Linked DNA regions of Homo sapiens: regions 1, 2 and 3 are each reported to be linked to region 4. The links are microRNA targets in miRTarBase. Many come from high-throughput screens and were not tested one by one. Region 4 holds a microRNA gene; each other region holds the end of a gene's coding sequence.
What was found. The annotated mature microRNA hsa-miR-4709-3p reads UUGAAGAGGAGGUGCUCUGUAGC and lies in region 4 at 2,984-3,006, shown strand. An mRNA with a match to its seed (bases 2 to 7 or 8) in the 3' UTR can be bound and repressed. Matches are read on the target gene's strand: a 7mer-m8 pairs with bases 2 to 8, a 7mer-A1 pairs with bases 2 to 7 and ends in A, and an 8mer does both.

Region 1 (7,118 bases), not on the chromosome of region 4:
GCATGGTGGTGTGGGCATGAAAGTTGTTCAGTGTTCAGGCCTTAAAGCAAGATTCTGGGATTTAATTCTCCTTAAATTGAAGAATCAGCGTTGGTGGGGGTTGAAAGTACTAAATCTTCCATATCCAGTTCTCATGAGCATATCCCAAAGGATATTTAATTGATTTCCACATCCGTAGGTCAAAAATGGAAAATAGAGAAAATGGAGGTTGAAAAGCCTTGACTAGGCATGCAGTGTTTATTTTGATGTAAAGTGTACAGTATGACATGGGGTGTCAATTCTAAGAGGTAGAGTAGCAGTGTTAAGGAGTTGGAATATCCATGGGCTTGGTCCTATCAACCCTGGAAGCTCTCTTCATTCAGGCATTTCCTGGTTCATGGTGTAAGATGCATTCTGAGAACCCAAAATCCCTCATATCTCATCTACTGTTTTTTCTTTTAGGTACAGAAATCATTTGAAGTTCCACAGGCTAAAGCCCAGATGCCCACCATAGAACGAGCAACCTTGACAAGAGATTTCTACCTCTTTCCTGGCAATTGAAAATGTAAGTATTGAGAGTTGTTGGAGGGTGAAATAAATGAAAGAGCTATATCGGTGGTGAAGTTCAATGACCAATGACAGCTGACTGCTTATATGGTCAAGTTAGTGTTCTTTATTGATGTAGTCTGGTGAGTATTTATTTGCTCTTTTTTATTCTACTTATATGCATTTAGTTTCCCTCAACTATATAATCAATCAAAGGGTAAGGAAAATTGCAGCAAAATGTAATACACAATGAAAGTCCTAGGTTAGTAATTATTAAAATAATAATGTACAAATATTACCATTATTAATTATGTTCATTTATCTCTCATACACTCCCTCTCTTTGTCTCTCTCTCTGTTTCTCTCCCACCTGCCACACTTAGTTACCAAACAGTGCATCAGACCTTGAACAAAACAGAGTAAACACAGGAGCTATCTATGGGGAAAGCAGGGCTTTGGTCCTCTGAGTGCACATATCACATTACTGTTGTTGACTTTCTCCTTAGTTCAGCTAAAGATGGGGTCCTTGTCACACGACCATGAGAAATTAGACTCACAGACAATCTGAAAGGTGAGGAGGGCAGGGTTTATTGTGTGAAAAGGAAAAAAATGGGAAACAGACCCTTCACAGAGCCAGAGTCCTGCTAATGCCCTTCCTGCCTCGCAGATTGAATACCAGGTACCACCCAGGAAGAGGAGGGGCCAGGCTTCTCCCTGCTGCAAATGGCATGAACTTCCCAAGGCTCCACCCCAGTGTGCATTCTTCCCAGTGCACAGTCTGGTGGGAGGTTCTGCCAGGGAGCCCTTTTTACTTGGCTGTCTCATTACTGACATTCAGCCACAGTTATGGGACTGTAGAAAATACATGCTCAACTATAGGTACTTTATTCAGGAAAACCTGCCTTGAAATAATGAAATTGGAATAAAGAATGCACAGAGTTGGAGAGTGAATCATGTGGTTCTTATGCAGGAGAGGTGTTCCAGCACAGAATACAAGTGCAAATGCCCTGGGGCAGAAATATGCTGAACAGGTTTAAAAAGAACTACAATGAGATAGTGTGACCAAAAGAGAATGCAAGTGAGGGAACTGACAGAGACAAATTAGGAGAAACAGTGAGGAGCCTCATCACAATGTGCTTGAACATCACATGGTAAATCTTTAAAAAAATATTATCTGAGTAGATAGGAAACCCTTCCAGTGCTTTGGAAAAGAGAAGTGACATAATTTAACTTAGGTTTTACAAAGATATTCCTGAGTACTTTTCACTAAATAGACACAGAGGTCACAGATGGAAGTCGAGGGAAATGGCAAAAGCATATGGCAGAAGATGGAAGAAGAATCATAATGAAGGATGGGATGAAGGCAGTGAGGGGTAACCATCTTGACCTTCTGTCCTTTCTCTCTTCTGCAGGAAACCACAGGCAGCCCAGCCCTCCTCTGTCAACATCAAAGAGCACATTTACCAGTATAGCTTGCATAGTCAATATTTGGTATTTCAATAAAAGTAAAGACTGTATCTTTTTAGATTGTATGAACTGTATCTTTTTAGATTCTCTAATAGACAATATAATTTCAATGAAAATGGTGGACGAGTGAAAATGAAGTGGAAGAAACTAACTAGATTTTCGAGTTTTATGGCTCATGTAACATCTATACTTGGCTGATGAAGACGACTGGCTGTGACTTACCGCCAACAATAGAATGAAAGAAGATGGTGTTAAAAGTATAAGATACCACCTCATACCCATTAGAATGACTCCCATCAAAACATACAAACAAACACAAAATAACAGGTGTTTGCAGGGATGTAGAATAATCGGAACCCTGTGCTCTGTTGGTGACAATGTCAAATGGCACCACTGTGGAAAACAGTATGGAAGTTCCTCACAAAATTAAAGCTAGAATTATCATAGGATCCAGAAACTCCACCTTTGGGTACATCCCTAAAATAATTGAAAGCAGGGTCTCAAAGATACACTTATACACCCATATTCATGGCAACGTTGTTCATGATATCTAAAATGTGGAAGCAACGAAAGTATCCATGGACTGAAAAATGGATAAGTAAAATATTGTATATAGATATAATAAAATATAATTTAGCATAGAAAGGAGGGAAGTTCTGACATATGCTAAAATATAGAGGAACTTTGAGGACATTATGCCAGGTAAAATAAGCCATTCACACACACAAAAATACAATATGATCACACTTATATGAGGTACCTAGATTATCAGATTCACAGAGACAGAAAGTAGAATGGTGATTGCCAGGTGCTAGGGCAGGAGAAAATGAAGTGTCATTTAATGGTTATAAAGTTTCAGATTTACAAGATAGAAAGAATTCTGGAGGTAGATGGGTGATTGTTGTGCAAAATTATGAATGTATTTTAATACTATTTGGCTGTACACTTAAAATTGTTAAGCTTGTAATTTTGTTATGGCATTTTACTACGATAAAAATTGCAAAAATATAATGATATAATTGAAAGTGAGAAGGTATGAGGGCAACATTAATCAACTTACATAGAGAAAATTTAACTACTGAGCAACATTGATGAAAGAAGAAATTAGGATTAAATATATTATTTATTGTTCCACAATTAATCAATAAAAAGTATGAACATCATGACATCATCAAATATTAGGTAGAATAGACCAGATATGTGGCTATGTAAGTGAGCTGCATCTCATTTTTCATATCAGGTAGTCAATGGCATTGTTTATGTTCTATATTTCGGGAAACACAGAGGTATAATAGTCATTATTGAGAATTCCAAATGTTACTGCCAAACAAAACAAAACAAAAATAATTGAAGGAAATTACCTCTAGTATGTGGGACTAAAGGTGGGGAGAGTTGTACTGGGAAATATGATTTTTATTGTATTCTTTTCTGTACTATGGACTGTCTCATGAATGTATTACTTTGACAAAATATTTAAAATTATATTGAATTGACACTTTTAATAATTTATAGATTTCTAAAAATCAGGTAGTATTGAATTTTAATGTGTTGAATTTTTAAAGGGTTTGTCCTATGTTGTGAAGCAAAGATTAAACAAATGGAGCAAATTGTTGATAATATATGATACTGGTGCTATAAGGAAAAAAGGTATAGGTAAATATGTGTCTGCCAGTTATTTATTTATGGGTATCAAAACACCCAAAACCTCAGTAGTTTAACACAATAAGCATTTGCTATTGTTCACAAGGTTACCAGTTAGCTAGGTAGGTCTTGACTCTGCTGAGATTATCCATGTGTCTGAGATCACCTCTGCATGGGGTAGGCATCTTTACTGAAAGGCTGGGATCTCTCATATGTTTGGAAAGCACATGGCTGGTCTAGAATGACCTTGGCTGGCTGGGGCAGCTGGGCTCTTTTCCACATGATGTGTCTTATTAGCCAGCAATGTGGCTCAGGCTCGTCCTCATTTAGGTTCAGGTGTCCACGAGGAAGAAGAGCACCAGGCTTCATAAAGCCTGAGCTGGGAATTGCACGAGATCCTTCTACTGCATTATGTTGGCCAAAACCAAGTCATAAGACTGTTACAGGGTTGAAGCAAAGGTCAAGGATACTAGGAAGCCAATGATTAAGGAAATCAATAAAATCGGTAATATATTAAGTGTTTTACAAAAGCATAGAAAAAATTCAGAAAGATGCAAGCTAAACATATAATTGGGGTTACCTTGTGTCAAATTAAAGAGTGTGGATAATCCTTTTCCACTTTACAAACTTTTCTATTGTTTAATTTTAGTGGCAAACCTATATTTATTATTAAAAAATGATTTAAGTATCAGTCTTTTGTATATTTAACAAACAAAAAAACCCAAGTGAGTGTGATAGATAAACAATACCCCAATTGACACATGAACAGAATTGGAGAGAGAAGAAAAGAGATCACTTATGCGACTTTTTGAAATAGTGAAGGGAGTATCACTGGCAGCCTTAAGTCAGCCTCTGTCCCCTCACCTTCCAAATTTATACTTCCAGGGTTGTGCAGGCAACAGTGGAGTGAGAACTCCCAGCAATTTAGAGACTAGTGGTGGTACAATGAAAAATAGGAGTTTAATTTGAGTTATTAACGGTGTTAAAAATTGACAGGAAAACAGAACACAGAGACTTATGTTTGCATGTAAGTGTGCATGCTTTTATTATGATAAATTTGTTATATCAAAAAGAGAATTTTATAAGGGGGAGGAAAAATCACGCACCAAAATTGAGAGTGCAAAACGATAAGACAAATTTGGGAATTAAAAAAATTGTATGGTTGCAATGTAAAAGTTGAAGTATGGTTTGAAAAGATTAGATGTACTGATGAAATATATAGGAGTAATTATTTGTCCTGGGGACAGTGTAAATTATTTTAGAATATTATTAAACAGGGGCGTTATTTATAGTCAGATTTATAATTAAGAAAGATGGCTTGCAGAATGGACAGCAGGTTGAATGGCATACAGGAAGCCAAAATTGCCTGTGTTACAATTCTTTGCCAAGACTCTTAAAACTAAGGTTGGATAGAATTAGAATTCGTAACTAGGAATCAAAGTAAAAATGAATTGGGTTCAAATAATATGAGTTCTTTTTCTGTTAGTCTTTCATTTCCAAACGACTTCTCTTTCCCTCCATTCATATATGTAGCTATCTTCCATTGGAGATAATAATAATCAGTAATGTCACCCAAAGAGAAAAGAAGAATTTGACTTAAAAGGGGAAAATTAGACTTAAAATATATTAAAAAAATACTCTCTTATCTGCCTTGAAGGGCAGGCATTTTCTGAAATAAAGACAAGAATTTAGTGAAACTATTTTCCTTTACCCAGAAGGATCCACCCCGTTCCTTTTTTCCCTAACATCCAGTGAAAGAAGTAAATAGTGTTGACATATACTCACATTAGCAAGTATTTACACATATTTTGAAAGTTTTAATTTTAAAGACATGGTCCCTGTAATCTTTTGCCTTGTAATCTTTTGATCCATAATCCCACCATCATTTTTAGTTGGAGAATATGTATAACAACAGAGAAAAGTATGAGATGCTTTTTAACTTTTAATTTTGGTGTTATCACAAATAATGAATGCACTTATGAGATACATGGGATATATTGATACAGACATTCAATGTATAATAATCACATCATGAAAAAATAGAATATTTATACCCTCAAGCATTTATCCTTTGTGTTATAATCAAATTATCCCCTTTTAGTTATTTTTTAATGCGCAATTAAATTATTTTGACTATAGTCACCTGGGGTGCTGTCAATTACTAGGTCTTATTCATTCATTCTAATAAATTTTGTACCTATTAACCATTCCCACCTCCTCCTGCAACCCTCCACTACCCTTCCAGCTTCTGGTAATCAACTTTCTACTCTCTATACTCATAAGTTCAATTGTTTTTATTTTTAGATTCCACAAATACATGAAAACATGTGATGTTTGTCTTTCTGTGGCTGGCTTGTTTTGCTTAATGCAATGATCTCCCATTCCATCCATGTTGTTGCAAATGACAGAATCTCAGTCTTTCTTATGGCTGAATAGTACTGCATTGTGTATATGTACCATATTTTTTTTATCCATTCATCTGTTGATGGACACTTAGACTGCTTCCAAATCTTAGCTGATGTAAACAGTGCTGCAAAAAAATATGGGAGTGCAGATGTCTCTTCAATATACTGATTTTCTTTCTTCTGGCTACATACCCCGAAGTGGAATTGCTGGATTATATGGTAGCTTTATCTTTAGTTTTTTTTGAGAAGGCTCCAAACTCTTCTTCATAGTGGTTGTACTAATTTACATTCCCAACAGTGTATGAATGTTTCCTTTTCTCTGCATCCTCACCAGCACTGTTTATTGCCTATCATTTGGATAAAAGTCATTTTAACTGGGGTGAGATGATGTATCATTGGAGTTTTGATTTGCATTTCTCTGATCATCAATGGTGCTGAATATCTTTTCATAAGCCTGTTTGTTGTTTTTATGTTTTCTTTTGAGAAATATCTATCCAAATCTTCTACCCATTTTTATTTTTTTCTTTTACCCATTTTTAAATCAGATCATTAGATTTTTTTCTTATAGAGTTGTTTCAGCTCCTTATAAATTTTGGTTATTAATCCCTTTTCATTTGGAGAGTTTGCAAATATTTTCTCCCATGCTGTTGGTTGTCTTTCACCTTGATTATTTTCTTTATTCCACAGATGCTTTTTAACATGATATGATTCTATTTGTCCATTTTTGCTTTTGTTTCTTGTGCTTGTGGGGTATTACTCAAAAAATTTTTGCCCACACCAATGTTCTAATAGTTTCCCTAATGTTTTATTTTAGTAGTTTCATAATTTGAGGTCTTAGATTTAAATCTTTCATCAGTTTTGATTTTGTTTTTGTATGTGGCAAGAGATAAGGTTATAGTTTCATTCTTCTGCAAATGGATATCCTGTTTTCCCAGCACCATTTATTGAAAAGGCTATCTTTTCCCCAGGGTATATTCTTGACACCTTTGTCAAAAACGAGCTCACTGTAGGTGTGTAAATTTGTTTCTGTGTTCTCTATTTTGTTCCATTGGTCTATGCATCTGTTTTTATGCCAGTACCA
Region 2 (7,123 bases), not on the chromosome of region 4:
GCTGAGGCAGGAGAATTGCTTGAACCCGGGAGACGGAAGTTTCCGTGAGCCAAGATCATGCCACTGCACTCCAGCTTGGGCAACAGAGTGAGACTCCATCTCAAAAAAAAAAAAAAAAAAGAAAGAAAGAAATGGTTGAGGGTGAGAAAGACCTGTGAAAATGGCAGGTTAATCCCTAAATATGACAATTTCAAGTCTTCAAGTCTGGCACTGGGACAAAGTGAAGAAAAAAAAAAGATCAATATGTTTCTGTGCATCACACGACAAACTGACAGTTTGAAGGTAGTAGTGTCAGCTCCTGTTAAGCTAAGGAATGGGGTGGGAGAGTATGTCTAGAGAGGACAGTTAGGTTAAGACAGATTTGAGGATGCAATTTTTGTTGTTGTTGTTTTGTTGTTGTTGGTGGTGGTGGTGTTGAGATGTAGTCTCAGTCTGTCACCCAGGCTGGATGGAGTGCAGTGGTGCGATCTCAGCTCATTGCAACCTCTGCCTCCCGGGTTCAAGCGATTCTACTGCCTCAGCCTCCTGAGTAGCTGGGATTACTAAAAAATTAGCTGGCTAATTTTTTATTTTTAGTAGAGTCAGGGTTTCGCCATGTTGGCCAGTCTGGTCTCCAACTCCTGACCTCAAGTGATCCACCTGCCTTGGCCTCCCAAAGTGTTGGGTTTATAGGCATGAGCCACTGTGCCTGGCGGGATGCAATTTTTTCCATCTACTCAAAGGAAAGGGCCAGTTGCAGTGGCTTGTGCCTGTAATCCCAGCACTTTGGGGAGCCAAGGTGGGCAGATCACTTGAGCTCAGGAGTTTGAGACCAGCCTCAGCAACATCATGAAACCCAGTATCTACAAAAAAAAAAAAAAAAATACAGAAGTCAGCCGGTCATGGCAGTGCACACCTGTAGTCTCAGCTACAGGGGAGGCTGAGGTGGGAGGATTATTTGAGTCTGGGAGGTTGAGGTTACAGTGAGCTGTGATCATGCCACTGCACTCCAGCCTGGGTGACAGAGTGAGACCCTGTATCAAAAAAGAAGAAGAAGAAGAAGGAAAGGAGGAGGAGGGGGAGGGGAAGAGGAAGAGGAAGAAAAGAAAAGGAAAGTCTGAGATCATTCCCCCCCAAATGAACTTTTATAAGCTGATTGAACTTGACACCAGCGCCACCTGGTGATGCTAATGAGTAACTGCAAGGTAACGGTTTTCTCATCAGTACACTACGAAAAGTTACTAAACGTTTGTATATGTAAACATATATATAATTCCATCATAGGAGCCAAATGTGATTTTAGAAGCGAGGAAAATAGCGAAGATGATTTTTAAGAGATGAAGAAGGATGAGGTATGTAAACCGAAAGGCAGCAACAGTTATCAGATAAGAAAAGCATGTAAGCTAACGTCAGATGAGTCATTAGTAGAAAGTTTACATCCTTATAGTATGGACTATGTGTTTATATCCTTACATGTAGGGGTTTGCTTTAAGTTCTAGGTAATTATTCCTTCTGATTAATAAAGCGCCACCTTCTTCCGCCACTAGGTGCTGACCCAGTGAGGGTGCCTTCTGCTGCCCAGTCCCCTGGACACATTGAAGAGAGGAGCAAGTAGCCCTGTCCTGACATTGACCCTGATTTGACCCCTCTTCTTATAAGGATCTCAAGAATCTCTTCAGAAGCACTGATGACGTTGATCCCAGTAAGGACATCACCTCTACCCTTGGTACCACAACTCTGTATGGGGTTGCCCAGCTACTCTTCCTTTCAGTTGCAGTCCCAATTTTACTCCGTCAGAAAGCAGCCCTCCCCTCCCTCCCCTTATGAGGTCTCAGGCAGTGGTGGCAGATTTTTCCTGAAGAGTCTTTTTCCTGTGTCTGCCTTGTTATTGGAACCAATGCCAGCTGGTAGGATCCCTGAGCCCCTTGCGATATCACCACCAAGAGCCTGATAACTGAGCAGGGTGGATCCTGTCCCTGGAGCTGCTGCACCCATTAATTCTCCCTTGTTGCAACTCTGTGTACCAAGAACCCCTAGCATCAGCCTCATTCCTAAGCCAATAACGCCTGTATGGAGTTGGTTTCATCTTCTGGTGCCCACGGCCATTGGCATTGCCAGCCTCATTCCATGCCACTATGAGTCAACTCAGGAAAACTGCGAGTGCATTTGAGGCTTAGGGGTAGTCATTCCATCTTTAGATTATCCTTGGACTTCAGCTACCAGCACAGCATGCATTAGCCTTGGTCCTGTAGGTTAACTGAAGTTCAAACATCAGTGCCAGCTTGCCTCCATCCTTTTCACATATTATGCAGGCCAATTGACATATAATTTGTTCTTAAAAATAGGGGCATGAAATATGTGATCTGGAAAAGATTGTACTTTCTGGACTCTTTTCCCACTCTTGCCTCTTTGTGCTGCTGTTTCGTATCCTCCTCACACCGTGTATTTCCCACCCACTCAGGGTCACAGCCTACTAATTCCTCAAACTTCTCTCCCTGGACTAGGAGAAAGGCTAAAGAATGTCAGTAAATAAAAGAGCTTTCATCCAATCCCAAGGCATATATTATGCCCAAAAAAGACAAATTGTGTCTGGGGTAGAGAAAAAAGGCCTAAAGAAATTGCTTCTTGGCCTTTTGCCTAAGATCAAGTGGAGAAGACTTGTAGGAGAAAAAGAAGACCAGTGCTCACAAGTGGGGCAAGCCTGGCTTGGAGAGTAGGAGTCCTGGACAACTGTGGAGCTGGGTCAGAGGCTTCCCGGAGCCTTGTGATTATGACTTTGTCAGTGCTCTAAAATTTCCCTGGAGATTGATTCCCTGGGTGCCCAAAATAGGTCCCTGGCATTCAGGTCCTTTCTGCCCAGCTCACCTTCTCCCAATTTCCTAACAAATTTGAGTCCTTGGAGTGGCTCCAGGGATGTGTTCACGGACCAGAATCCCACATTTCCTCGGGGGCATGCTCATAGGTAGGTCCAGGCCTTGGCACAACAGTCATTTCTAGCCTCTTGAGCTTCTTTTCCTAGGGTGATATAAGAAAAGGCCAGGGAAGAACAAAAATGAGCCAGAGGTGTTGGACAAGAGGCTTGATGTAGTCCCTGGAGCTGCTGTTCTGAATCACACAGTCTTGAGGAGGAGGACCAGGGTCACTGGCTGAGCCTGTGGAGGAGGCAACCGCTACTGACTCTAAGTCTGGCAAGATCTTTCCTCCCACCCTGAGCTATGTATGGGTGCCTCTCACACAGGCAGATTTAGATTCTGTGTCACTGTCCTGGAAGAAGGGCCCAAGCCAGAACAGGGGTCCCGGGCTGAGAGGAGCCTTCAGAGTGAGAGGGCAGCACCTTTGCTGACCCACCTTTCACTGTAAGCAGTGGCACTCACCCCTGCCCTTGCTCAAGGGAGTCACCCATTCCTGAGTGAGTCAGGGTCACTCACTCCATGACAGCTGTGGCTCGCCTTACATGAGCTAAATTGGGAATTGGAATGTCATGCAGATGCCCCTTGTCTCCCAACCCCCACAGTAAAATTAATCTGCTCTCTGGGGAGTAAGGGACAAACAGTGCTACCCACAGAGTGAACAAGAGAGAGTCATTTGGGAAACAAAAGGAGAATTTTACAGAGAGAGAGGGATAGCTAAAACTACGTGAGCCTGGCGAGGGTGCAGAGCAGAAAGTAGAGACTGTCCGAAGACTGCTATCTGGGACGAGACAAGTTGTTAAAGGGACAGGAGAGAAAGCAGAGCTATTTCAAGAGTGAGCCACAGAAGGGAATCCAGAGGCCATCTAAGCGAGGAAGGGTCTACAGGCAGTGAGTGAAGGCCAGGAGCAGGGCCCAGGCCAGGCACGACCACCGAGGGGATGAACTTCACAGTGGGTTTCAAGCCGCTGCTAGGGGATGCACACAGCATGGACAACCTGGAGAAGCAGCTCATCTGCCCCATCTGCCTGGAGATGTTCTCCAAACCAGTGGTGATCCTGCCCTGCCAACACAACCTGTGCCGCAAATGTGCCAACGACGTCTTCCAGGTGGGTGCCAGGGACGGGGCAGGGCCAGGTAAAGCAATGCAGACCTGTGGGGGACTGATCAGGTCAGAGCTGAGACCCCAGAAGGTGATGGATAGAGTGCTCTCTGAGGTGGGTGGTGGCTGTTGTGGCTGGAGAGCAGAAGGGCTGGGGTCCAAGCAAATCCCAGAGCAAGCATGAGTCAGCAGCTGCCCTGCAGGCTGGCAGGTACAGCCTGTGCATAGACGGCAGCTGGAGTGCTGGGATCTACCAAGGAAAGTAGACCCTGTGGAAACTGGGAGGGAGGGTATCCCACACCGGGCTTTATAAGAGCCTGTGCCAGACTCTGCATTCCAGTTTGGAGTTTCAGACTTCGAGAGCATTGTGGAAAATACGGAGAAAAGATTAATGAGATAATGAAACGTTAAAAAACAAACAAACAAAACCCGACCCTGTGAGAAAGCTCCATAATGGCAGTAAAACTATTTGTATTTAAGGAAAGTTGAAGGCATCCATTGTGGGTGACAGAGTTAGACATAGTGGGCAGGAGACTGGGAACTCTCCCCAACTTGAGTTCATACCTGTTACCCTCCAGATTGTTCAGTAAAGAGGCCTACTGGTTAAAAGCTACTGAGGTCACTTGACAAGCAGGGAGAAGGCAAAGAAATTTACTTCTCAGAAGTCCAGCCAGTTTTGTTTTATCTGTGGTCATGGGGCCAAGCAGAGCTAATCAAATTCACAGATACTAGTATAGCCACTGGTTTAGAAATAAAAGCAGCATATACCAGAATGGATTATAAGTGGGCTTTTTTTTTTTTTCCTGTGCTACTGGGGAGGTTCTAGTAGGCTATAAAATGGAACAGAGATCAGGGAGAGTGAGGGGCAAAGGCACACACACACACACGCGCGCACACACACACACACACACACACACACACACACACACGGCCTTGCCGTTAAGTAAAAGCCCTGAATATGGCCAGGTGCAGTGGCTCACGCCTGTAATCCCAACACTTTGGGAAGCTGAGGCCAGCAGATCACGAGGTCAGGAGTTCAAGACCAGCTTGGCCAATATGGTAAAACCCCATCTCTACCAAAAATACAAAAATTAGCCGGGCGTGGTTGCAGGCGCCTGTAGTCCCAGCTACTCAGGAGGCTGAGGCAGGAGAATCACTTGAACCCAGGAGGTGGAGGTTGCCTTGAGCCGAGATCATGCCACTGCACTCTGACCTGGGCGACAGAGCAAGACTCCATCTCAAAAAAACAAAAACAAAAACAAACCCCGAATAGACCAGAGCTGGCTGGTTTAGTATGTGTGTCAGTGACATGGAACATCCCAAACAAGTATTCTTCATCTGTGTCAGAAATGATGAGGAAATGTGTTAAACACAAGTGATTTTTAACCTAACCAAGAAAATACTTCCCTTTTTAAGTTCCTTGGGGCAGCTTGTTTTGGAAAGGAATGGGCTGGCTAGGTCAGGCCATCCCACAATGTACCCTGTGACCCACACCTTGTGTGTCTGCTCTGTGCCACCTTCACTGAAGACCAGCACTCTGTGGTCTCTCCTGCCATCTTCCCATTGAGACCCATTCCCTCTCCTATTCTTTATGTGTCCAAACCTGCCATTATTCAGCTCCAGAGTATCTCAGAGCCAGTAGATTTTCCCTCTCGGGGGGCCTAGACCAAATGCTGTGCCTCCTCGTCCTGGGCATGAAGTCCTACATGAGAGGCAATGCTTTGCCCACCATCTTGGTTTTTCCTTGGTCTAAGTAACTCTGAACATCCTTCAGGCTGAGATGCCTAGGAGGGAAATGGCAGAAAGATTTTGCCATCCTTTCTCATGAACTTACAGTGAAACATCCTCACACTGGAACTTGAAATGTGTGAAAGCAAAGAGAAGTTTTGAAAGCTAAGGTGATGTGTCCTGTAGAAAAGTGGTCAGAAGGGCCAAGTGCATTCCTGGGTCCCTCTGTCATCTGGCAGAGGAATAGGCCCCATACATGGAGGCTAGAATGTGTTTAAGTGACCTGCTTATTTAAGTCAACTCTCTCTATCCAAGCACACTGTTTCAGTTCCAGAAAGCTCTAGAATACGGATCTGGGCTCAGAGAGACCTTGGAATGGCTTGGGGCAAATCCTGTACAGAATATTTGGAGATAACATGATACCCAGGGCTTTGGGGTGGCTCTGTGGATCTGGAGTGGTGTATCTTTTGAGGTGCAAAGCACCCTTGGGCCCTCCAAGGAGGAAGAGTGAACAGCTCATCCCTTGCTGCTTATTTGGGAGGGCCTGGTGGGAGGCTGACCCAGTTCTTCAGCTGCACTTAGATCTGTGTATCTCAATATATCTCAGTAGATCTCCCTCTGAAAGATGAGCATATTTAGTTTTTTCGCACATTGCCTCCACATTTTGACAACTGTAGGCATAATCAGATTGTCTGTTTTCTAAGTATGGGGCAAGAATAGGACTTTTGGAAAGAATAGGACTTTTCCTCTACCTTCAAACCACTTAGGAAGAATACCCTTAGAGCATTGCCTAGAAAGTTAACGGTTATCAAAGTGATACCAGTATATCACTTAGAATTTGTAACATGTAAACATACTGTTTTCAAGCAGTATAGGAGTTCATATCATGAAAAGCAAATCTGCTATTCACCTCAGACCCTCAGTTGTCTCACCAGATAGAAGTAACTATTACCAACTTTCTTGGGAATACTTCCAGAAAATTTCCACAAATCGGCACATTTGCATGTATATGTGTTCTCAGGCGAGACCCATCGCCCCCCACCTGCCTTTGTTCACTTACTCGCTGTGGGTGATTGTTCCATATCCACCATTCAGATTTATGTCTTCGTTTTTAAATAGCTGTGTAGTTTTCATTGTTATGACTGGACCACAGTCTATTTAAATAATCTGTCCTCTAAAACATTTAGATGGTTTTCTGTGTTTTGTTGTCCTAAAAACTGCCGTGATGGACAACAAACAAGAGTTTTTGGGAATTGTGATTTTATAAGACCAAGTTAACTAGACAGCCAGGAAGCAAAATTTGAAAACAATTTATTTAAAAATACTGGCTACGTAAGGTGGCTCATGCCTGTAATCCCAACACTTTGGGAGGCTGAGACAGGAGGATCACTTGAGCCCAGGAATT
Region 3 (7,121 bases), not on the chromosome of region 4:
CCAAGTAGCTGGGACTACAGGCATGTGCCACCATGCCTGGCTAATTTTTGTATTTTTAGTAGAGACGGGGTTTCACCACGTTGGCCAGACTGCTCTTGAACTCCTGACCTCGAGTGATCCGCCCGTCTCGGCCTCCCAAAGTGCTGGGATTACAGGCATGAGCCACCGCGCCCGGCCAAAATGGGAAACTTCTAAGTATTTCTTGAAGGGACCAATGTTAGAATTGCATTTTAGAAGAACCCATCTGGCAGATGGATGATAAATGTACTGGAGGAAAAAAGCCAGAAGCAAGGAAACCTGTCAAGGAAAACACTATTAAATAAATAAATAAATAAATAAAGTGAGCTTCAAGTAGTAACAACAGAGATAGCGAGAAAGGATCTTGTTTGGGAAGAATCAGGAGCTAGATGCTAGATTGGGTGTAAGAAAACCTAGGTGCATCATCAGATTTATAACTTTGGAGATGAGGTAGATTTAGTATACAGAGGTAGGAAATACAGAACAGTCTAACAAAGAAGGGTAGAGGCCGGGCACAGTGGCTCATGCCTATAATCCCAGCACTTTGGGAGGCTGAGGCAGGCGGATCATTTGAGGTCAGGAGTTCGAGACGAGCCTGACATGGTGAAACCCTGCCTCTACTAAAAATACCAAAAAAATAAAAAATAAAAAAAAAATAAGCTGGGCGTGGTGGCGGGCGCCTGTAGTCTCAGCTACTCGGGAGACTGAGGCAGGAGAATTGCTTGAACCTGGGAGGCAGAGCTTGCAGTGAGCCGATATCGCGCCACTGCACTCCAGCCTGGGTGACAGCACGAGACTCTGTCTCAAAACAAAACAAAACAAAACAAAAAAAAAAAAACGGCCGGGCGTGGTGGCTCACGCCTGTAATCCCAGCACTTTGGGAGGCCGAGATGGGCAGATCACGAGGTCAGGAGATCGAGACCATCCTGGCTAACACGGTGAAACCCCGTCTCTACTAAAAACACAAAAAAATTAGCCAGGCGTGGTGGCGGGTGCCTGTAGTCCCAGCTACTCGGGAGGCTGAGGCAGGAGAATGGCGTGAATTCGGGAGGCAGAGCTTGCAGTGAGCCGAGATGACGCCACTGCACTCCAGCCTGGGCGACAGAGCGAGACTCCGTCTCAAACAACAATAACAACAACAACAACAACGGGGGTAGAGTGAGGGTTGATACAGGTGACAAGTCTTACTTGGGGCATTTTGTGTTTGAGATGTTCATGGCACAAGTTGAAAATATGGATTTATAGATTTGAAAGTCATTAGCACATATGTGGTAACAGAAGAGATGGCTGTACCAGATGCAGCTAGGGACAGCCAAATAGTCACGCACACAAACAGCCATAGCTTGCTGCTGGTTTTGGAGGTGGGCGCGCTTCTCCCTCATTCTTGGTGTTCCTCTCCACTGAGGGGGAGCTCCGTGAGCACAGCACTTGCAGCCTCTGCCTCCTCACCCACTTTGCTCAGGTCATGTGCACGCTGGGCTCTCCTGTGTTAGTTTTATGACTAGTAAAGGTGTCATGTTGATCTTACAGTCACACTGGGGGTTAGGGATTCAACCTGTGAATTTGGAAAGGGGAGGGGACATGATTCCGTTCATAACATGGGGTTACATCTTACTGAATGCCTACTCTTTTTTTTTTGAGACAGGATCTTGCTCTGTCACCCAGGCTAGAGTGCAGTGGCATGATCTCAGCTCACTGTGACCTCCGTCCTGGGTTCAAGTGATTCTCCCATTTTAGCATCTCGAGTAGCTGGGGCTATGGGTGCATGCAATCACGCCCGGATAATTTTTGTATTTGTAGTAGAGACAGGGTTTTCCCATGTTGGCCAGGCTGCTCTCGACCTTCTGCCCTCAAGTGAACCACCCATCTCGGCCTCCCAACGTGCTGGGATTACAGGCATGAGCCACCGTGCCGAGCCCTGAATGCCTACTCTTGACTAGACACTATGTATTTCACATTCATAATCTCATGTTCATCCTCACATTATAGTGTCCATTATTAACTTGGCCTTTATTTCCAGAATCTGAGTACTGGTCATGAAACAATTTATACTCCCTTACTTAGGTGACCAGATTTGGGGGCAAAGACAGCTTAGATAGAAACTTCTACTTGGCTCCTGATAAGCATGAGCATCTGGGAAGTTCCAGGTAATGCTTACCACAGTTCCTTTCTCCTTTCTTGTTTTTTGTTTGTTTTTCTTTGAGACGCAGTTTCGCTCTTGCTGCCCTGGCTGGAGTGCAATGGCGCGATCTCGGCTCACTGCAACCTCCGCCTCCTGGGTTCAAGCATTCTCCTGCCTCAGCCCCCCGAGTAGCTGGGATTACAGGTGCCTGCCACCACGCCCAGCTAATTTTTTGTATTTTTACTAGAGACAGGGTTTTACCATGTTGGCCAGGCTGGTCTCAAATTCCTGACCTCAGGTGATCCACCTGCCTCGACCTCCCAAAGTGCCGGGATTACAGGCGTGAGCCACCGCGCCCTGCCCTTTCTCCTTTCTTTCTTTTTTTTTTTTTTTGAGAGTCTCCCTCTGTCACCAGGCTAGAGTGCAGTGGCACGATCTCAGCTCACTGCCACCCTTGCCTCCCGAGTTCAAGCGATTCTCCTGCCTCAGCCTCCTGAGTAACTGGGACTACAGGCGCGTGCCACCAGCCCAGCAAATTTTTGTATTTTTGGTAGAGACGGGGTTTCACCATATTGGCCAGGATGGGCTCCATCTCTTGACCTCGTGATCCGCCCGCCTCAGCCTCCCAAAGTGCTGGGATTACAGGCATGAGCCATGGCGCCTAGTCTCTCCTTTCTTAAAGCTACCCCTCCTCCTTGTTCTCAGCTCCTCCCCATTCTCTACCTGCACTTGGTCACTTTCTTCTCCTAATTCCTGCCTCGGTTTGACCTCAGAAGCACTCCTTATTGCTGTTTCTGTGCCAGTCCCCCATGTGTGGACTGGGAGTGATTCTGTAGGCCACTCCATGTACTGCAATCCATCACCTAACTCATACTAGAGAATGCCTGTGTTACCAGTATAGCTGAAAAACAGCATTTATTTTTGTAGATGTGGCTGATTTTCATAAAGGTACCCTCCCCTCACCATTATATTAAATGGAGAAAGTAAAACTTACAGAGCTCTAGTGTCTTGCCCAAGGCCAGAGCGAGGGTCTGTTTTATTTTGTGGGACTTACTCTAAGCCCTGTGCTTTCTGAACTACGTCATGGAACTGCCCCTTCTCTTCTGTGTTCTACTCAGCCCCATGCTTTTGCTTCAGCCACTCAGGGTAATATCTCTCACTGACATTTATAATCCTTTAACTTCTTCTTTGACCTCTTTCTGCAGCATGTGGTACTGTGGGGTACTCATTATTATTATTATTATTTTCATTTGTTTAGAGATAGGGTCTCACTCTGTCACCCAGGCTGGAGTGCAGTGGTGCAAACATGGCTCACTGCAGCTTTAACCACCTGGGCTCAAGCAATCCTCCCACCTCAGCCCCCAAGCAGCTGGGACTACAGGTGCACACCACCATGCCCTGCTAATTTTTCTAAGTTTTGTAGAGATGGGGTTTCGCCATGTTGGCCAGGCTGGTCTCAAATTCCTGACCTCAGGTGATCCACTCACCTTGGCCTCCCAAAGTGCTCAGATTACAGGCATGAGCCACCGTGCCTCACCCATTATCTTTTAAAACTCTTTCTGAAAAGCATTTTTTAAAAATGTCTTTATTTTCACATTATTTTATTTTTAGTTCTGAATCTACCTGTTAAACTGTTGGCATTTCATTTATCTGATCACTGGCACTTTAGTTTTGTTTTTTGAGGTGTACCACATAAATAGCAGCCTATTCCCTACCCACAGGACTGTCCCAAACACAGGCGGCACCTTTTTCCTCTTTGTATAGATGCTGTGATTCTTTTTTCCTTTTTTTGAGACAGAGTCTCGCTCTGTCCTCCAGGCTGGAGTGCAGTGGTGAGATCTCGGCTCACTGCAAGCTCCGCCTCCCGAATTCACACCATTCTCCTGCCTCAGCGTCCCGAGTAGCTGGAACTACAGGCACCCGCCACCACGCCCGGCTAATTTTTTGTATTTTGTATTTTAACACGGGTTTTCACCGTGTTAGCCAGGATGGTCTTGATCTCCTGACCTCGTGATCTGCCCGTCTTGGCCTCCCAAAGTGCTGGGATTACAGGTGTGAGCCACTGCGCCCGGCCGACGCTGTGATTCTTGTAGCGACTTTGATCCCAGCAGATTCTGACTTCGGTAACTGGGGACCATGTTTTGTGCAACACACACAAAATTTATGAAGGTACTCAAATTTCCTAAGGAAGGCTGTAAGTTATCCTAACAGTAATGTCAAAGGCTGGGTGCGGTGGCTCATACCTGTAATCCCAGCACTTTGGAAGGCCGAGGTGGGCGGATCACGGATGTCAGGGGATGGAGACCATCCTGGCTAACATGGTGAAACCCCGTCTCTACTAAGAATACAAAAAATTAGCCAGAAGTGGTGGCAGACGCCTGTAGTCCCTGCTACTCGGGAGGCTGAGGCAGGAGAATCACTTGAACACAGGAGGTGGAGTTTGCAGTGATCTGAGATGGCGCCCCTGCACTCCAGCCTTGGTGACAGAGCGAGATTCCATCTCAAGAAAAAAAAAAAACGAGTAATGTCAAAGATTGACAGTCTGAGAGACAGATGAGGGTTTGCCAGAATAGCCTGGAAAATCTTATAATGTTAGATTAGGCGACAGGGCAAAAAAAAAATAGTGGTGCTGTGGACTGACAGTATTTTATCCTTTGGTATTTTCCTCAGAGACCCTAATGTTAAGTATAGTTCTTTGAGAACTGACATAACACTGTTGAAAATGCAGAGGGGTTAGATAAATAACACTGCCTGTTACTCACAGTGGTGGACTTTTAGGTGATTTAAGTAAAATTCAGAAGGAAAGAACACATGGGTAATCATTTTAACAAATGAGATAGTGGAAGACATTTATTTTTAGCAATATGGAAACATTCCAAGAAACAGAAGCCCTCTCACCATCTGAGAGAAAATGAAAATCCACTATGAGAGAAAACTGAAGACTTTAATACAGATTTAAGTAAAATGGCCTGGTAATGGAAAAGCTGACTGAGGAATATGTTCCTGGCTGTAACATTTCTTCACTCAGGCTGTAGTTTCTGAATTTAATGAAGGGATTATTGGATGACACTGAAGAGATCGTTGGACTAGCAGATCAGTGTGAATGTTTCCTCCACAACTGGCACGTCTTTCCTATGACGATTATTGAGGGAGATGTCTCTTTGACTGTCTATGGATTATTTGGAACTTTTGTCAAGGAGCCATAGAGTTCTGCAGACCACACACCTGTCCAGTGTGTCTGTAGCCAGTATTTTGTGATTTTTTTTCTTTTTTGAGACAAGATCTTGCTCTGTCACCCAGGCTGGAGTGCAGTGGTGTGAGCATGGCTCACTGCAGCCTCTGCCTCCTGGGCTCAAGCGATCCTCCTGCCTCAACCTCCCAAAGTAGCTGGGACCACAAGCATGCACCACAACGCCTGGCTGACTTTTATATTTTTTGTAGAGATGGAGTCTTGCAATGTTGCCTAGGCTGGTCTCAAACTTCTGGGCTCAAGCGATCCTCCCACCTGGGCCTCCCAAAGTAATGGGATTACAGGCGGGAGCCACTGTGCCCGATCTTACCCTGTGAATCCTTCAACCTGCCTCAACTTGAGCCAACAGAGCTGCTGGCACCTCCTGAAAGCCGACTGCGTGACTGCTGCATGGCCTGACCTAGAGGCTGGAGGGCTTCTCTTTGGCATGCACTGCAATGTGGGTCTTGAGCGCCCCCACGTACGTGAAGCTCCTTCCACACTCATCACAAGAAAAAGGCCTCTCCCCACTGTGAAGGCACAGATGGGCCTTCAGGCTTCTCTTCTGGAGGAAGCCTTTGCCACACTCGGGACACTGGAAGGGCCTCTCTCCACTGTGCTTATACAAGTGGACCTTCAAGCTGCCCCTGATGCAGTAGCTCTTGTCACACTCCGGACACTGGAAGGGCTTCTCCCCGCTGTGGACTCGAATGTGTTCTGTGAGCCGGTACTGTTGAGTGAAACTTTTGCCGCACATCACACAAGAGAATGGCTTTTGGCCACTGTGCTGCAGCAGGTGGCTTTTCAGGTTTCCCTTGAGGCGGAAAGTCTTCTCGCATTCAGGACACTGGTAGGGCTTCTCTCCACTGTGCAGCCTCAGGTGCTCGGTGAGCTGAGACTGATGCGTGTAGGTCTTGTCACACTCACCGCACGCGAAGGGCTTCTCGTCCCTGTGCATCCGCTGGTGGAACTTCATGGAGGCCTTCCAGGAGAAGCTCTTGTCGCACTCGGGACACTGGAAGGGCTCCTCGCCACTGTGAAGCCTCGTGTGCTCTGTGAGATGCGCGCGTCGGCGGAAACTGCGGCCGCACTCGGCGCAGGAGAACGGCTTTTCCGTGGTGTGGACCTTCAGGTGCTGCGTGAGCCGCGACTGCTGAGAAAAGGTCTTTTTGCACTCGCCGCAGGGAAACTCCTTCTGCCTGTCGTGGACTCTGGTGTGGCAGGCGAGCTTGGAAGGCCGCGTGAAGCGCTTGCCGCACTCGGCGCAGGGGAAGGGCTTTTGCTCGCTGTGCAGGCGCTGGTGGGCGCGCATGGCGTTCCTCCAGAAGAAGCCCCTGCTGCACTCCGGGCACTGGAAGGGCCGCTTCCCAATGTGCTGCAGCCCGTGGGCTTTCAGGCTTCTCTTGAGGCGGAAACTTTTGTTACACTCGGGACACGAAAAGGGCTTCTCTCCCGTGTGAACTCTGATGTGCTCGTCCAGCTTAATCTTGTAGATGAATTTCCTGCCACATTCACCACAAGAAAACGGCTTTTCCTCGCTGTGCGTCCTCTGGTGGGTCTTCAGGGCAGCCTTCCGGGAGAAGCTCCGGCCACACTCGGGACAGTGGAAGGGCCTCTTCCCGCTGTGCTGGGTCAGATGGACCTTCATGCCCCTCTTCAGGCGGAAGCACCGGTCACACTGCGGACACTGGAAGGGCTTCTCTCCGCTGTGCAGCCGCAAGTGCTCCGTGAGCTCGCACTGCTGCACGAAGG
Region 4 (7,123 bases):
GTATCTAGGATTTTAAGCATACACTGTTGGCAGTTGACTTCAACTTGCTTTCTGTAGGAATCTTCTATCGTTGGGTCATATTTTTCAACAAAAATTCCCTGAACAAACTGAACCATCAGAGCAGACTGCCCAACACCTCCTGAACCAAGGACCACTAGCTCACCCGTGATGTGGTCTGTTTAAATACTGATGATTCCCCCAGTCTGGCACCTCCTCCACCTCCTCCTCCCTCCTCCCTCCTCCCTCCTCCCTCCTCCCAGCTGCGGCTCCTGCTTCGGCTCTGCACAGCAACGGCTGATGCCATTTTTATATACAATATTTCACTTGGATCTCATGACCATCCTATGTAGAGGTGATATTATCTCTATTTTACAGCTGAAGAAATTTGAGCCTCTGAAGTTATGCAATATGAACAGAGTCCACTCCACTAAGAAGCAGTGGAGCCCAGGTTTTGAGCTGGGTCTTATAACTCCAAAGCCTGTGCAATGTTAAAAGATTTTAGCCAGGTACCAAATAATTAAAGATCCAAGTTGTCTTAACATTGTCATCAGAAAATCCTGGTTTCTCCATTAATCTCTTAACAAAACAAGAGAGCAGTAGTTTGTTAGCTCCATGGCAGAGAGGTAGCTTTTTCCAGCCTTCTTTCTGCCCTCCAATCCCCACCTTCACCTCTGACCCATCCCTGCTGCACCTACCTCTTTTTCTACCAAGCACTCATAAGGTAGATCCTGCTGCAGTGGACCTGTATTAAAGATATGTATCTTGATAAGAATGGAGGAAATAGAGGGATGGCCTTTTTCCATGAAGAAAAAGAGCCGCATTTCTTGAAATCAAGTAGAACTCAGGAGCAATATCTGGCCATTTATTTTCTAGGAAAGGTAAGTAATTAAAGAACATTCTAAAGAGACTCAAATATAGGATGTCTGTGCTTAAGGGCTGTTGGAGACCTTAGAGGTCAGGGACAGATTAGTAGATGAATATCCACATAACCATGGGCATGTCTGAACCTCAGTTACGTATGCAGTGACTAGTCAGAGCCTGATACGTAGTAGGTACTTAATGTATGGTAGTTATTGTCTGTTAAATGAGTTACATTTAATTTGAAAAATAGCTCAAACTGCTTAAGCACTAAATGAAGCAGTAGTTAATGTATACTAGTCTGGAAAAACTCACAAGGCAAGTTTCAAGAACCTGAATATCAGTGCCACTCACATGTTCCATTGTGAAGAAACATTAGAGTACAAAAGAGAGGTAGTAACTAGTGACAAGTAAGCTAATGTCCACATAAGAAAGGACCTGCAGAGTGTCAGTGAGTTATCAAGAATTGGAAGGGACCACTCACGTGATATGAGTGTAACAAGTCAAGGCAGGGATTTCTGATGAAGTACATTATTAGAAAGCAGTTTAAGGGCGTTAACTGAAAGTATATTGCTACAAAAGGTTGTCATCCTTGAAATTATTCATACAGCTACAGACTTCTCTAGGCCATCTTTTGTGCTTTGACATTTCCATTTCTAGCTAACAAGAACGTTTCCTTATACCTAAGAATCTAAATTTTTTTTACTCTCTGCTCTTCATGGTTACATTGGGAAAAAGCTGGATCAGATTGCCAAATACATGAGAAATTGCTTAAATGTGAAATTATTCATGTAAGCCTTCATGTGTTAGTCCATTTGCCTTGTTGTAAAGGAATACCTAAGACTGGGTAACTTGAAAAGAGGTTTGATCAGCTCACGGTTCAGCAAGCTGTACCTGAAGCATAGTGCCACCACCTGCTTCTGGTGAGGCTTCAGGAAGCTTACTGTTAGGACAGAAGGCAAAGGGGAGCCAGCGTGTCACATGGCCAGCACTAAAGCAAGAAAGAGAAGGGGGAGGCCCCAGACTCTTTTAAACAGCCAGATCTCATGTGAAGTCAGTGAGAACTCACTCATCACCAAGGGGACGGTGCTAAGCCGTTCATGAGGGATCTTCCTCCATGATCCAATACTTCCCACCAGGCCCACCTCCAACATTGGAGGTCACATGTCAACATGAAATTTCAAAGGGACAAATAACCAAACCGTATCACTTCATTTATATGCCATTGATCTAAGAGAGAAGAGAATGCTTTAGAAATTACATTTGATAAATTAACCAAGTTAGTATGTGGTGCTGCTAGCATCAAATCACAAGTATAACTTTGTTCACTCTCTTAAGGCTGTAAGCTGTGCCCACATGCTAAGCAGCCCTCATGATTTAAGAAAAAAAGTATGAGGAGTTAGGAAGTTTGCTACTGTACATCTAGGATTCATAGTTAAACCAATTATGGATAGAAGTCAGGTCCTATTTTCATTTTTCTCAATTATTTTTCTCTTTCTCCAGATAAAACTGGTGGTGGAGTGGCAACTTCAGGATGACAAAAACCAAAGTCTCTTCTGCTGGGAAATCCCAGTACAGATCGTAAGTCTATCTGGGGGTGAGAGGGCATGGGTGGAGGGAAGAAAGTGGAGGAGAAATCAGACTGAAACTAAATCAGTGCCATAAGATAAAAGGAATTTCAAGACTGCTGTTTTATGCCTCTCAACCTCTAAAAGCATCTGAGACCCTATTTCCTGAGAGCTCAGAACTGTTGCCTTTGTAATATCCTTTGTTAAAAAAAAAAAAGGTTGAAGGAAAGAAGAGAGAGTGAGACTGTAGAGATTGATTTAACTGTCTTCATTGGTTTTTTTCTGTCGGAGTAAGGAAGGTCCAGCCAGACAGGACCTGAAGGAGGTTGCTTAGGAATGTCTGATAACTTGCCCTAGGGTTATTGCCCTGACAGTGGAGGAAAGGTTCCAAACCACTTCCACTGAGCTGGGACATTACATCCACAGGTTTCTCATCTCTAAGTGCCTCATTGAGTTCGGTGCATCTGGCCAATGAGTCTGCTGAGACTCTTGACAGCACCTCCAGCTCTGCTGCTTCAACAACAGTGACTTGCTCTCCAATGGTATCCAGTGATTCGTTGAAGAGGAGGTGCTCTGTAGCAGAAACTGAGCTCCGGGTGGCTGGTTCTCAGTGGTTGTCTCATGTCTCTTTTTCTGTCTTAGGTGGTTTCATTAAATGCAGCACTTGGTTAGCAGATGTTTAATTTTTTTTTTAACAACATTAACTTGTGGCCTCTTTCTACACCTGGAAATTTACTCTTGAATAAATAAAAACTCGTTTGTCTTGTCTTCTGCATGTGGGCTGTGGTCTTCTCCTGCTCCTTTCAGGGTACATTCTGCTAGAACCATGGAAGGCAGGCCCCCAGTTCCGTGGTCCCAGAGTGCACTGAAGACATGACTTTTTCAGAAACTCTTTTTCCTCCTTTTTGTCCAGTAAGACCATATCTATTTTATATAAAATGGCCTTGTTTTGCTTTATTTGACACAATCTTATACCACCAAGCATGCTCGAAAGAAGCAGTGAAAGTAAAAATCACCTAGTTGAATAATAACGCCTGAAAGGTTGAAGGAACTGAATTTGGTGGGGAGGGCAGGTAGGGGTTAGGGATTACAGGTTAGGATGAGGCATGGTGATCTTTTGGGAACACTGCTGTGAAGAAAGCCTAGAAGCTTAAAAATGAAATGTGAAGTTGTAGCAAGTAATGGCTAAATTAATTAAATCTTGGAGTTTCCTATCTTAAAGTACAAGTATAATCATGGGCATATATTTTGCCACCTATTTTGAGTCAGTATACTAGCAGTCAGCTCTTAGGTGGTACAGGGATTACAACCCCATTCACAATTGAGTTGAATAACATGGACCTTAGGTCATCCATTGTTAGGGCAAAAGGAAGGAACATTCATACAAAGTGCTTGTGAGCAAGTGATTGATTTGATCCAGTTCTTTTCATCCCACTAATTTCACTAGACCCTTGGATTTCTTTGGTCTGTGAGTTTCCCAGGAAAACCACCAGGGGACAGTGATGGATCAGGAATACAGTTATCAACAGCCAAGCTTTCCTAGTTAATGCTAGGAGCCAGTCAACCAGTGTACTTTTTACCTAAGATCTTTTGTGTATCCTGCCACATTGAGTCTAGAGTGACAGTCCACCTTGTCTCCCATACCAGACTCTAGATGTATCAGAATTGTGTGAATTCCTGAGGCTGTTAACTGTTGTGCGGGTCTCTGGCTTCGGACTGCCTATGGTTGAATCCTGGCACCAACAATTAACAGGACTACCAGTGTGATCTTGAAATCACTTCATCTCTCTGTGTGTCAGTCTCCTTATCTGTTAAATAGGACTAATAATAATAGGGCTGTGAAGACTAAATGAGATGAGGCATGTAAAACACTTAGAATGACCCTGGCTATAGTATATACTCTCTAAATGTTAGCTGTCACTCTGGGAGACAGACATTCTTCTTTGTCTACAAATAGCAGGAAAATTAGAAGGTTCAATCTGAGATTTGATGATGTCTCCTCAGAAGGATGAGGCTATCCTCTGTGCACAAGAACTTTCTGAAAGGCCTGGAAAAGCTCAATTCTCATGTGTCCACTGTCTCCCTATTCCCAGAAGATTTCTCATGCCATTTAGCTCCTTTGAAGTTAACAGCTACCCACCCTGCATACTCCTCTGCCCTTGTGTTAAAAGAAGACAGGACTCACAATACCATGCAAAATGAGTACTTGCCTCTAGCTAGGAACAGTGCCTACTTCAGGGAGAATTGATTTTGATACAGCTGACTAGTTTGAGTGTTAAACTATTTTGGAAATAATTTACATATCTAAGTTCTAAAATATATTTTTCTTTCCTCCACTTATTCTTCAAATTTGAAACAATGTTTTAATACTGTATATCTTTCATTGTTTATAACTTGCATTCTTTGTGAAAATTTGTTCTTAGGGACAAAAAAATTCTTAATCTTTTTATGTGTAAAGCAGGAACAGACAGATAATACATAAACAGATACATATTATATCTGCGGTATTAAAATTTGGTGGGGTGGTCGATTAGGATTAAAAGGTCCATAAAAGCTCCTGTAAGGAGTGATAATGAAAAGGGTGGGGAAGCACTAAAGACAAAGAGTATAAGTAGATATTTCAGAAATCGAAATTAAAAAGTATTTCGGCTAGTTTATACCCTTCCATCAGAGCAAAAGGGGAACACAACAGCTTGTGACTGTTTGCCAGCCATCGCGGGGCTACATGAAGCCTGCAGCCGTGAGCTAGGTAGGGCTCCCGTGGGGGGATTAGTTTGAAAGGTCGTCTTCTACAGACAGTTCACAGACGCCCCCGTGAGTCATTAAAACATTGAGAAGCACTGAATCTTAGGTATATCAAAAAGGTCATCCTCTTTCCAATGACCGTCTCATGCTTTTCTAGTCCACGGAGCAGGTTTTGGAGGCTCAGCTCTTACATGAATTCCAGGACAGATAAATCCCAGATTCTAATTGTTGAAATAATAATGAGGGGCACCCCTGCTTATAGAATAAAGGGAACCCAACACCTCATATCTCCAGTTTGGGAAAAGGTTAAATATGAAGACTAGTATTCAGTCAAATCTTCATACTAATAAAAAGCAACAAGCATGGAGTAATTTTAAATCCTGCATATTTGGTTTTTAAATCTTAGTTGACTTTTTTTAAAAGGAACAGAGTGATCTTTTTTTTTTTTAACACAAAGTCTTTCAGAAAAGAAACAGGGTGATCTTGATTATGCTTTGGAAAGGTTGATAAAAACAGCTTGTTCTCTGAGAACACCCTCCAGACATAGGAAGAGTGGCTTGAAATAGGTGAGGTCAACTAAGAGAAAATGATCTGGGATCAGCCATTCACTTCAGATAATCCAAAAAGCAATGGTTAAATGGGTTGGTACAAGGACAGGGTTACAGTATATAAGAAAAGCATTAGCACAGAAAAAGGAGTCGTGTAAGAAAGTCGCCAAGGTGAAAGTCACGTTAAACAAGTGTTTTTCCCAAGGAAGAGACAGAACAGGAAATAGAGGTTGGGGTATGCCTTATTTAAAGGCCTGGAACACTCAGGCGAGGGTGTGTGTGTGTGTGTGTGTGTGTGTGTGTTGGGAATGGGGCTGGGGGGAGACAGGGTTGTGTGTGTGTGTGTGTGTGTGTGTGTGTGTGTGTGTGTGTGTGTGTGTGTTGGGAATGGGGCTGGGGGGAGACAGGGTTGAGTGACCCAAAGTAGAAAGTGGCTCTGGATCTCCACAGATGTTGCCTGAAAGTCTTTGAAGGATTTGAGTCATTTTGGGTGGTTGTGTCTTTTTCTCTGAAGAGAATTCCTCAGCCTATCCCTAGATTCTAAACTGAATCCGATTCACTTACAGCTGTCAGTTGACTAGCAACTAAATGGTCTGGGTGTTGGTTGCCATGGAAACAGCTAAAAGGCCCATTGCTATGGGAACCTACCAGGCTCTCCAAACCAGGGGTTTGGTTCCTAAAAAGGGGTGGAGGGGAGGGTGGAGACCAGGAGATGGCCTGCATAGGTGGCTCAAGGGTCCTGGAAGAGGGTGGGCAATGTGGGTGAGTGGATCCGGCCAGCTCCTCTCGACTGGGGCAGAAGAACAGTGACCTCTTCTACTTTCTGCAGATGTTCCCATGCCTGTTCTCTGCTCACTGCCCAATGCTAGCCACAGAGCACAGGTGTTTGCAGTTGCAAATGGAGACTAAGAGCCTGAGATTCTGGAGCAGACGTGGCATGTCAGTGTGGCTCCCCTCACCTGCAGGGGCTTGGAGAAGGACGGCTCCCTTCTAGCAGGCCGTCCTCCACAAATCATATGTCCCAGATAAGCAGCCAGCAGGCAGAAAGATCAGCTTAGCTCTGACTGCCAGTGGGTAAGGCCAAGAAGGAGCCTGGCAGACAAATGGATGGCTGCTGGCCTTGAACATGGCAGAGCTGCTGGGTGTGCCAGATCAAAAAGCAGAGAGCAGGCCAGCAGCAGCAGACTGTTCTCAGCGCTGGAGAAATGCATTGCTCTGCCCACTACACCCTCAACCATCCATATGCCTCTGCCACAAAGGGGGATACTGCAAATGGATCAACATAGGAAAGATGAGGTTTGATGGAGATTCTCAGTGTACACACACAATGCTTGTAAGATTCTTTTCTGTTTTGCAATCAAAGTAACTCTCACATTAGTGTTTAGTGGTAAGATGATTTTTTTA

Region 1: the mRNA of CASP5 is a reported target of hsa-miR-4709-3p. The part of its 3' UTR that is shown has no 7-base or 8-base seed match.
Region 2: miRTarBase lists DNAJC5G as a target of hsa-miR-4709-3p. Seed matches in the 3' UTR shown: 7mer-m8 at 1,651-1,657.
Region 3: miRTarBase lists ZNF425 as a target of hsa-miR-4709-3p. Seed matches in the 3' UTR shown: 7mer-m8 at 5,211-5,217.

Annotation. Positions count from the first base shown.
Region 1 is chr11:104,989,166-104,996,283 of GRCh38, reverse strand. CASP5 (caspase 5) reads left to right here. Exons shown (of 10, transcript NM_004347.5): 9 at 442-544; 10 at 1,937-2,041. The coding sequence ends at 540. Among named protein-coding and RNA genes, the nearest start is that of CASP4, 24 kb to the right of the region's middle.
Region 2 is chr2:27,278,903-27,286,025 of GRCh38, forward strand. DNAJC5G (DnaJ heat shock protein family (Hsp40) member C5 gamma) reads left to right here. Exons shown (of 7, transcript NM_173650.3): 6 at 1,264-1,331; 7 at 1,527-2,597. The coding sequence ends at 1,313. TRIM54 (tripartite motif containing 54) reads left to right here and starts at 3,527. Exons shown (of 9, transcript NM_187841.3): 1 at 3,527-3,997. The coding sequence starts at 3,830.
Region 3 is chr7:149,097,822-149,104,942 of GRCh38, forward strand. ZNF425 (zinc finger protein 425) reads right to left here. Exons shown (of 4, transcript NM_001001661.3): 4 at 4,963-7,121. The coding sequence ends at 5,791. Among named protein-coding and RNA genes, the nearest start is that of ZNF786, 11 kb to the left of the region's middle.
Region 4 is chr14:74,476,018-74,483,140 of GRCh38, reverse strand. MIR4709 (microRNA 4709) reads left to right here and starts at 2,937; the gene lies at 2,937-3,008. NPC2 (NPC intracellular cholesterol transporter 2) reads left to right here. Exons shown (of 5, transcript NM_006432.5): 4 at 2,362-2,439; 5 at 2,853-3,201. The coding sequence ends at 2,867. It also overlaps a transcript of SYNDIG1L not described here and the pseudogene RAP1AP.